Regions from separate parts of the Homo sapiens genome. Here region 2 is linked to region 1. Evidence: fine-mapped expression QTL. A gene starts in region 1. The other region holds a variant in brackets. All regions are shown on one strand. Distances are from middle to middle.

Region 1 (5,361 bases):
TCCGGGCGCCCAGGGCACTAGGACGTGTCCGCCTTCTCCCGTGAGGCCCCTGAGCTGTACTCACCTACCCAGATGCTGAGGCTGACAGCCAGCGCCAGGCGGGGCGTGCGGCGGTGCAGGGCGCGCAACGGGAACACCGTCACGTACCAGCGGTCCACACTCATGGCGGTCAGAGTGGCACACGTGGCCTGCACCGAGACCTGCGGGAGCCGCCAGCCGGGCGTGTGGCCACCTGCGCGGTTGGGAGCCTGCCCTGTCCGCCCGCCCTGCTGATCCCCCTACGTGTGCGAACACTCAGGCACATACACGGGAAGTGTCCTGGGAGGAGTGTCCAGTGCGGGTTGAGGGGACAGAAGGTGGGGAGACTGGGAGAGGAGGGCAGGAGGATTGGGGAAGTGAGGGAGCCCTTGGGGGGCGGCTGATACCCCGAGTCTGAGACAGGGGGGCTGCGTGGGATGGAGGGACAGGCGGGGCAAGAAGCCTCAGGGCCTCAGTAGCCCTTCCTCACCAGTGACCCGGGTCCCCGTCTGCATCCCTCCCCCATTCCCGCCCCCCACTCCAGTTCTAGGCTGCACCACCGCCCAGCCCCTTCCCGCAAGCTGGGCACCCCAGCCCCTGGTTCTCCTATGCGTTGCCTCGCGCCCCGCCCAAGGTCCGTCCTCCCTTCCCACGTGGGCTCCCCCTCCCCACATGCGCCCGCCCCCCGCTCCGGAGCTCATCCCCTCTCCTCGTCCCCACGTGCGCCTCCTCCCCTCCTGCTCCAGAGTGCACCCCTGCCCCGCCCCACCATGCGCCCCCTCCCCTCCAGCTTCTGAGTGCATCTCCCTCCGTCCCCACGTGCGCTCCCTCCCCTCCTGCTCCGCAGCGCACCCCCCCTCCCCGTCCCCACGTACGATCCCCTCCCCTCCCACTGCGGAGCGCACTCCCGCCTGTCCCCAAGTGCGTCCCCTCCCCTCCCACTGCGGAGCGCACCCCCGCCCGTCCCCAAGTGCGCCCTCTCCCCTCCTGCTCCGGAGCGCACCTGCTGGATGTAGTTGACGAACTTGCACATGAAGTCGCCCAGCACCCAGCCGGGCAGCGGGTACAGCAGGGCCGTGAAGGGGACGCAGCACAGGAGGAAGGTCACGTCCGTGGCCGCCAGGTTGGCTGCGGTGGGGATGCGCGGGCGCTGGGCGTGGGCGCCACTGGCCGCGGGAACCGCCCAGCGCTCCTGGCCCTGACCCCTGGCCCCCACCTTGGTCCGAGTGACCAGCAGGATGGCTCAGGGAGGCCCCCCCCTCCCCCAGCGCCCCTGGCCTCCTCGGGCGGAGAAGTTGGGGCGCCTTCTAGTAATTCCCCCTTACATCTCAAACATTACGCCTCCGGCTCGGATTTCCTGGCCATTCCGGCAGAAATCGGTTCTGCTGGGCCCTGTCCGGGCTGGGGGAGCCTAAGCAGGCCCCTGACCCTCTGAGCCTCAGTTTCCACAACTGCAAACTGGAGACAATGGTGCCGGCCCAGCAGCCACCGACTGGGCTCACAGCTGTGTGTGATAGGGGACCCCAGGACACAAATGCATAAACAGGCTCAGAGAGCCACCGGGGCAGGGGTCGCAAACTAAGGCCCGCGGGCCAAGCCAGCCCCTCCCCCAGCCCTTTGTTCAGCTGACACCGAGCCGTTGGCCCGCGCTGCACCGGGGCGAGCCCCGCGAGTGGCCAGGTCGAGGTTTCCATGTGCCACACTCCCCACCCTCCGGCCCGCCCGGGCCCGCCCGCGCTGGAGTTTGCGACCTCTAGCCTCAGGTGCAGGGACCACAGGGAAAAGATTCGAGGTTGGGGGGGACCCCTGCAGGGGACAGAGCCGGGTCCGAGAGGGCCCCGATGCGTCGCGAGAGGGCGCCCCAGGCCGCTCGGCCCTCGGAGCCCCCGGGACGGCAGCAGGTGCGGCGCAGCGCCCGCACTCACCGATGTAGAAGTTGGTCACGGTCCGCATCGGCTTGTGGCGGCAGATGACGTAGATGACCAGCGAGTTCCCCACCAGGCCCAGCAGCATCAGCGCCGCGAAGAAGAGCGGCACGAGCCAGGCGTCCACGGCCCGCGGCGAAGGGACTGGGCCGTCCGAGGCGTTGGCGCCACAGCCCGGGCAGCCGGAGGCGTTGGCCGGTGCCCCCCAGGACGCGTTGGGTCCGGACGTAGCCACGGTGTGCATGGCCGCGCGCACCTCCTCCTCCCGGCCGCCCTCCAGGATTGCGCCCTGGCACCGCCCCGGGGACCCCTCCGCCCGACCGCCCGGGGGCTGCGCCTGTGGAACTCAGGAAGGGGCTCGGCTGGGGTCCGCAGGGTCCAGAGGGCAGCTGTGCTGGGCTCGGCGGCTCCTCTGCCGGCGCCGCTGCGGCCGAGCGTTTATAGCCCGTGCCCCCCTCCCCTGGCCTTGCCTTCCCGCCTCTCCGGCAGCCGCTCGCCACTCCCTCCCCTGCCCACGCGCCCTCTATTCACCCAGCGGCAACCCCCCTATTCCCTCCTCCCGGTGCAAGGTCGGAGTGAGAGCGCGGGAGGGGGCTGGAGGGGGCGGAGCAGGCAGGGGGTGGGCCGCGTGGAGGCCGCTGTGGACCTGGAAGGACCGACCTTAACCAGCGAGTAGACGCTCAGCCCGGACTAGGAGCCCAGCCAAGGCGCGAACTCTAAGGCCTGTGAATATGGGAAGGGCTTTGACCCTCGTAGGGGCTGGGGCTCCAGGGGGTGGGCCCAGCCTGGCGGGGAGGCCAGCCCTCAGCGGAGACCCTGAGTGAGGATAGCTTGGGTTTGTCCCCAGGACCCTGGAGAGCCATGGAAAGTTCAGGGCAGGTGAGGGACGTCCCCGATCTGGTGGTTTGGGACTGAATGTGTCCCACATGACTGACAAGGGGTGTCTGATACCCGCAGGGACACTAGCAGCGGGAACCAGGTGGAGGGCACCTTGCAAACGCCACAGCCTCATTATTATTATTATTATTACTGATTTATGTATTTATTTATTTTTTTGAGACAGAGTTTCGCTCAGGTCGCCCAGGCTGGAGTGCAGTGGCTCCATCTCGGCTCACTGCAAGCTCCGCCTCCCTGGTTCACGCCATTCTCCTGCCTCAGCCTCCCTAGTAGCTGGGACTACAGGCGCCCGCCACCTCGCCCGGCTAATTTTTTGTACTTTTAGTAGAGTCAGGGTTTCACCGTGTTAGCCAGGATGGTCTTGATCTCCTGACCTCGTGATCCACCCTCCTCGGCCTCCCAAAGTGGTGGATTAGAGGCGTCAGCCACCGCGCCCGGCCTTTTATTATCATTATTGAGACAGGGTGTCGCTCTGTTGCCTAGGCTGGAGTGCAGTGGCATGATCTCGGCTCAAAGCAACCTCCGCCTCCCGGGTTCAAGCAATTCTCCTGCCTCAGCCTCCCGAGTAGCTGGGATTACAGGTGCCTGCCACCATGCCCGGGTAATTTTTGTATTTTTAGTAGAGACCAGGTTTCACCACGTTGGCCAGGCTGGTCTCGAACTCCTGACCTCAGGTGATCCACCCTCCTCGGCCTCCCAACGTGCTGGGATTACAGGCGTGAGCCACTGCTCCCGGTCCAGCTAATTTATTTTTAAATTTTTTATTTTTTATTTTTTTGCAAATAAAGTTTTTTTTTTAATTTTATTTATTATTTTATTTTATTATTATTATACTTTAAGTTTTAGGGTACATGTGCACAATGTGCAGGTTAGTTACATATGTATACATGTGCCATGCTGGTGTGCTGCACCCATTAACTCGTCATTTAGCATTAGGTATATCTCCTAAGGCTATCCCTCCCCCCTCCCCCCTTAAATTTTTTTGTAGAGACAAGATCTCACTAGGTTGCCCAGGCTTGTCTTGAACTCCTGAGCTCAAGCAGTCCTCCTGCCTCAGCCTCCCAAAGTGCTGGGATGACAAGCATGAGCCACCCAGCCTGGTCAGCACAACCTTGACTCCATAATCCCACAGCTGGAAGTGTACCCCAGGATGACATCCAGGAGGTTCCCCCAAAGTCCATCCTGCAACAGAGTCCAAGACATTTGGTCATCATGGAGTAATACACAGCGAAGAAAAAGGTGCTTCCATTTGCATAAAAAAAGACAAAAAAGGGAGGAAAAAAAATGAATAGGCCGGGCACAGTGGCTCATGCCTGTAATCCCAGCACATTGGGAGGCCGAGGCAGGTGGATCACTTGAGGTCAGGAGTTCCAGACCAGCCTGGCCAACGTGGTGAAACCTGGTCTCTACTAAAAATACAGAAATTACCCGGGCTTGGTGGAGGGTGCCTGTAATCCCAGCTACTTGGGAGGCTGAGGCAGGAGAATCACTTGAGCCCAGGAGGTGGAGGTTGCAATGACCTGAGATTGCATCACTGTAGGCTGGGTGACAGAGCGAGACTCTCTCAAAAAAAAAAAAGAAGAAGAAGAAGAAGAAGAAGGTACAGACAGGACAGGCCCAGGCCCCTGAAGGGAAGCCCTGGAACCCAGAATGGGAGGAAGGCCCAGGAAGTTCTCTGGAGTTGCCTCCCTCTCTCACGAATAAATGTTCAGGTCCATTCTTTGAGCATCTACCCTTACCCTGTGCCTGATGGATGGGGAAACCACTCATTCCCGATGCCCAGCTCCCCTGCCAGTCACTCCTGATACATCTCTCCATTGTCCTTTTTCACCTCTTTGCACATTTATCTACAGGAATCTCACAGTGCACGCTTTTTTGAGTCCATCCACAGTTTCTCATCCTTTTCTTTTTCCTCCTTACTCTTTCTTTCTTTTTCTTTCTTTCTTGCTTTTTTTTTTTGAGACAGCATCTCGCTCTGTCGCCCAGGCTGGAGTGCAATGGCACAATCTCGGCTCACTGCAAGCTCTGCCTCCTGGGTTCACTCCATTCTCCTGCCTCAGCCTCCTGAGTAGCAGGAACTACAGGCGCCTGCCACCATGCCCGGCTAATTTTTTGTATTTTTGGTAGAGATGGGGTTTCACCGTGTTAGCCAGGATGGTCACAATCTCCTGACCTCATGATCCACCCGCCTCGGCCTCCCAGAGTGCTGGGATTACAGGCGTGAGCCACTGTGCCTGGCTATTTTTTTTTTTTTTTTTTTTTTTTTTGAGACAGAGTAGTCTTACTCTGTGGCCCAGGCTGGAGTGAAGTGGACGGCTCCCTGCAACTTTTGCCTCCCATGTTCAAGCGATTCTTGTGCCTCAGCCTCCCATGTAGCTGGGACTATGGGTGCATACCACCACGCCCGGCTAATTTTTGTAGTTTTAGTAGAGATAGGGTTTTGCCATGTTGGCCAGGCTGGTCTCAAACTCCTGACCTCAAGTGATCCACTGGCCTTGGCCTCTCAAAGTGCTGGTATTAC
Region 2 (5,361 bases), 20 kb after region 1:
AGTACATGGACCTCATCTCGGCCAGTAAGTGCCGGTGGCCCCCAAGACCCCAAGTTGGCCAGCTCAACCTGGGAAAGTGGCCAGGGTCCCAGGGGCCTGGTTCCTCAGAGTGGGGCTTGGTGGGGAGGTGGGGAAGGGGGCTGGAGTGGGGACGCTACGAACTCAGGGGTGGCAGTGGGACCCTGCCTTGAATTCACCAGAAGCTCCCTGCATATGCGGCCCCACGCAGGGTGACCGCAGACACAACCAGGCTGCTGGACACAGACACTCCTCCATCTGCATCTTCGGGGCCCGGGGTGGGGGTGATGAAGCCTGGATTTGAGGGACCTCCCAGAGCCAGAGATAAGATGGGGGGACGCAGTGTCTGGAAGGTTTGCATTTAACTCTAAGGCCTCCCACATACCACACGTGGGACCTCAGGCGAGACCCCCTACTGGCCCCTGCGCTCCACTTTTCCAACGGGGCGCAGTCTCAGAACTCACCCCCGTAGTGAACGTCTGTGCAGGCGCCGCCGGCCCCAGGCACCCCATCTGGTCCTGAGCCTCTCACACCTGTCTCTGCCGCCCCGCCTGGAGTTGCCGAGGTGACAGTTTCCATGGCAACCGGACGATGCCTCCCTCTGTTCCCTCTGTGGGAGACGCAGCCCCCATGCCTGCCTCTGCTCAGAACATCCGGCCTTGGCTGGGGGTGCGGGGCTTGGAGCTTGGTGGGTGTGGAGCTGTGGTCCTGACACGGAAGAGGAGGGGTCCCAGCAAGATGGGGAGTAGAGGACGGGGGGGTCCCAGGCAGAGGGGACTGCTGAGGCGCGGAGCTCACATGGGACGTGGCTCTTTTTTTTTGTTTTGGTTGGTTAGGTTTGGTTTTTTTGAGACAGTCTCATTCTGCCACCCAGGCTGGAGTGCAGTGGCGTAATCTTTACTCACTGCAACCTCCACCTCCGGGTTCAAGCGATTCTCCTGCCTCAGCCTCCCGAGTAGCTGGGATCCCAGGTGCCGGCCAGCACGCCCGGCTAATTTTGTATTTTTAGTAGAGACGGGTTTCTTTTTTTTTTTTTTTTTTGAGACCAAGTCTCGCTCTGTCACCCATGCTGGAGTGCAGTGGCGCGATCTCAGCTCACTGCAAGCTCCACCTCCCGGGTTCACGCCATTCTCCTGCCTCAGCCTCCCGAGTAGCTGGGACTACAGGTGCCCGCCACCACGCCCTGCTAATTTTTTGTATATATATATATATATATTTTTTTTTTTAGTAGAGACAGGGTTTCACTGTGTTAGCCAGGATGGTCTCAACCTGACCTCGTGATCCGCTTGCCTCAGCCTCCCAAAGTGCTGGCATTACAGGCTTAAGCCACCGCGCCCAGCCCTAGAGACAGGGTTTCACCATGTTGGTCAGGCTGGTCTCGACCTCCTGACCTCAGATGATCCTCCTGCCTTGGCCTCCCAGAGTGCTGGGATTACAGGCATGAGCCACTGCGCCTGGCCAGGTCATTCATTTTTCTGCAGTGAGGGGGAGATGGGGAAGGGGAGGCCGGTGGGAGCTGGACCACTCAGGACCTGGGTGCCTCAGAGCCACCTCTGCAGGGCAGGGAGCCTGAGGGGAGGCCGGACACTCCGCCAGGCAGGCGTGTGAGTGGCCATGCGGCCTCAGGCCCAGTGCGTTTCAGGGTCCCCATCCGCACAGTGGAATGAGTGCCAGCGGGGAGTGAGATGGGCCCGAGGAGAGTGCTCCTGTAGGGAGCCTTAGGTATTCTTGTGAGCCAGGCTCCCGGACCTGCGGGCTTAGGGCCAGCCAGGCCGCAGTGACCAGCACACACCAGCTGGCGGTGACCTCCCTGGGAAGAAGCGAGGGTGGTGCAGGTCCGAGGCACCTCTACCTGCCGCGGCTCCCAAATTCCTCCCGTTCTTGCCCCGCTGGTCCCGTCTGCAGGTGCTGACCTGGAGGGGAAGCGGCAGATGAAGGTCAGTAATCGGCACCTGGATTTCCTGCCGCCGGGGCTGCTCCTGTCCGCCTACCTGGAGCAGCACAGCTGATGGCGGCCCCGCGGAGACCCCGCTGCCACCTCGCCCAGCCATCAAGCCCTCCGATACCTTCGGCTAAAATATCTTTCATATTTTTAGAATTTGTCCTCGGAAACCTTTTTCGCTTGGGGTGGTCTCTCTCACTCTGCCCCCTCCTCACGCAGCTCTTGGCAGTCAACAGACGCTGGCGGCTGGGGCTGCCCATGCCATCCCAGCTCCAAGCTTCCCACTCCGGGACTTGTGTTTGGGTGGGGAGACCTGACCTGGGCATGTTCCTGTTTCTTCATCGTTGAGCTTTTCTGGCCCGGTCTGAAGCTCAAGTGAGGAGGGGGAGGCTGGGTTTTTATCACTTTTAATGAATTTGGTGTGATTTGTTGTAGATTTTTAAATTTCCCTTTTGGAGAGAAAAACCAAAAAAACTCGCCCCACTGGTAAAACATGGGTCTTGGTCCCAGCCCCTGCTCAGCCCCTCCCAGTTTTTAGCTTGAATGAGGGTGGGGTCTCTGGGACCCTGCCCCTCATGCCAGAAGCATCTTGTGTTGTATATGTGTGCGCGCGTGTGCCCTGAGACCCAGGACAGAAGCCACGGTCCTAAGAGCCGGTTTTATCCTCGTCATTCTGCGTGTCCTCCCCCACGCCACCTGTGTCGGGGCTCAGGGTCTCCTGCTTTATATGAGCCCCCTTCCTTTCCTCCCCTCCTTTATGCTGGGGGTCCAGGACTTCCAGCCAGAAGCCTCTGCCCTTGCACTACCTTGTCTGTCACCCCATCCCGTGTCCCCTCGTCCCCCAGCCTGACTCCTGCCTGATAGCTCCTGTGTCCCCATGCTGGTCCTCCTGGCCCAGGCTGCAGGAGCCAGGCTGGGGGGCCTCCGCACCCCCTTGCTGCGTGTGGGTAATTGTGTTTTGGGGGAAAGTGGGGAATTTAATAAATTTCTGGTGCTCTGGCCTCGGGCTATGTGTGTTTTTCTTCGGGGCAGGGCCGGGGGCTTAGTAGGTCCTGGCCACCAAGGGCTGCAGGTGCCCCCCTGGCTCCTCTGCCCTTGGTTGCCTGGATTCAAACCCTGGCTCTGCCACATGCCTGCCGTGTGAC[CT/T]TGGGTGAGGAGCTTGTAGGAGTGCCTTGGGGCCCCTGTAGACCTTGAGTGAGTGGCTTGTACGAGTGCCTTGGGGCCCCTGTAATGGAGGGTCTCACACAGGGGGCTTGAAACGACAGAAGGCCAGTGCAGTAGCTCATGCCTGTGATCCCAGCACCTTGGGAGGCCAAGGCAGGAGGATCGCTTGAGCCCAGGAGTTTGAAACCAACCAGGGCAACATAGCAAGACCTTGTCTCTACAAAACATGAGAGAAATTAGCAGGGTTGGCTGGGCATGGTGGCTGCTCACACCTGTAATCCCAGCACTTTGGGGATGCCAAAGCGGGTGGATCACAAGGTCAGGAGTTCAAGACCAGCCTGACCAACATGGAGAAACCCCATCTCTACTAAAAATACAAAATTAACCGAGTGTGGTGGTGCATGCCTGTAATGCCAGCTACTCAGGAGGCTGAGGCAGGAGAATTGCTTGAACCCAGGTGGTAGAGGCTGCAGTGAGCTGAGATCGCACCTTTGCACTCCAGCCTGGGCAACAAGAGCAAAACTCTGTCACACACACAAAAATTAGCAGGGTGTGGTGTGCGCCTGTAGTCCCAGCTACTTGGGAGGCTGAGGTGGGAGGATCACTTGAGCCTGCAGTGAGCTGAGACCGTGCCACTGCACTTCAGCCTGGGTATGGAGGAAGACCCTAGGTCAAAGAGAAGCAAAAGGGAAATCTATCCTCTCACAATGCTGGAGGTAGAAGAATGAGGTCATGGTGTCTGCAGGGCAGTGCTCCCTCCAGCGTCTCTAGGGGAGGAGCCTTCCTGCCTTTCCCGGTTTCTGGGGACTTCGTGTGTCCATGGCTTGTGGCCACATTGCTGTGGTCTCATCTCCAAGTGGCCGTTTTCCCTGTGTGTTATGTCTTGTCTTGACATCGTCCTCTCCTCACGTGTCTGTGCCCAAATATCCATCTCTATGATGCCCGTCATTAGGTTAGGCCCATGCTAATCACCTCCTTTTAACCTGATTACCTCTGCAAAGACCCTGTTTCTAAATAAGGTCACATTCTGAGGTAGTGGGAGTTAGGAATTCAACCTCTCTTTTTTTTTTTTTTTTTTTTTTAGACAGGGTCTGGCTCTGTTGCCCTGGCTGGAGTGCAGAGGTACAATCCCAGCTCACTGCAGCCTTGACCTCCCAGACTGAAGTGATCCTCCCACTTTTGCCTCCTGAGTAACTGGGCCTACAGGTGTGCATCACCCCACCCAGCTATTTTATTTATTTATTTATTTATTTTGAGACAGAGTCTTGCTCTGTCCCCCAGGCTGGAGTGCAGTGGCGCGATCTCAGCTCACTGCAACCTCCACCTCTTGGGTTCAAGTGATTCTCCTGCCTCAACCTCTAGAGTAGCTAGGACTACAGGCATGTGTCACCATGCCCAGCTAATATTTTTGTATTTTTAGTAGAGATGTGGTTTCAACATGTTGGCCAGGCTAGTCTCGAACTCCTGTTCTCAGGTGATCTGCGTGCCTCAGCCTCCCAAAGTTCAGGGATTACAGGCCTGAACCACCTTGCCCAGCGCCCCTCCCTCCCCAACCCTGCTAATTTTTAATTTTTTTTTGTAGAGACGGGGTCTGGCTATGTTTCCCAGGCTGGTCTCAAACTCAAGCTGTCCTCAGACCTTGGCCTCCCAAAGTACTGGGATTACAGGTGTGTGCCACCACACCCGGGCCGCTAAGAACGTTAAATCCCTACCTGCTGCCTGGGAATGGGGATTTTCTGTAAGGTCACTGCGTGGCCCTCTTGGAGAACTGAACCCTGATCCAGAAAAAACACTCTGATATTTGGGCCATTGTTAACCTGTAATTTTAGAACAGTTTTATATTTGCAGAATTCTTGCAAAAATCATGCAGTGAGGCCGCGGTGGCTCACGCCTATAATCCCAGCACTTTGGGAGGCCGGGGTGGAAGGAGGGCTTGAGGCCTGGAGTTTGAAATCAGCCTGGGCAACATAGTGAGACCCCATCGCTATTAAAATTTTGAAAAAACAGGCTGGGCGCGGTGGCTCACGCCTGTAATCCCAGCACTTTGGGAGGCTGAGGCAGGCAGATCACCAGGTCAAGAGACTGAGACCATCCTGGCCAACATGGTGAAACTCCGTCTCTACTAAAAATACAAGAATTTGTTGGGCATGGTGGTGCGCGCCTGTAGTCCCAGCTACTCGGGAGGCTGAGGCAGGAGAATCGCTTGAGCCTGGAAGGCGGAGGTTGCAGTGAGCTGA

What was found. PIP is the estimated chance that this variant, and not a neighbour inherited with it, causes the effect. A credible set is the group of variants that fine-mapping cannot tell apart.
Region 2: its variant is the best candidate, but not a certain one, in a credible set for the expression of KISS1R in whole blood (INTERVAL, PIP 0.71).

What each region holds. Positions count from the first base shown.
Region 1 is chr19:914,329-919,689 of GRCh38, reverse strand. It overlaps KISS1R (KISS1 receptor), which reads right to left and starts at 2,357. Exons shown (of 5, transcript NM_032551.5): 1 at 1,944-2,357; 2 at 1,022-1,146; 3 at 65-200. The coding sequence starts at 2,187. RefSeq lists an enhancer at 1-783 and silencers at 1,777-1,976, 2,377-2,466, 2,477-2,616.
Region 2 is chr19:894,103-899,463 of GRCh38, reverse strand. R3HDM4 (R3H domain containing 4) reads left to right here. Exons shown (of 8, transcript NM_138774.4): 7 at 1-24; 8 at 1,924-2,961. The coding sequence ends at 2,027. Among named protein-coding and RNA genes, the nearest start is that of RNU6-9, 3.3 kb to the right of the region's middle. RefSeq lists a silencer at 488-688. The variant CT/T (reference allele first, on the strand shown) is at 3,106.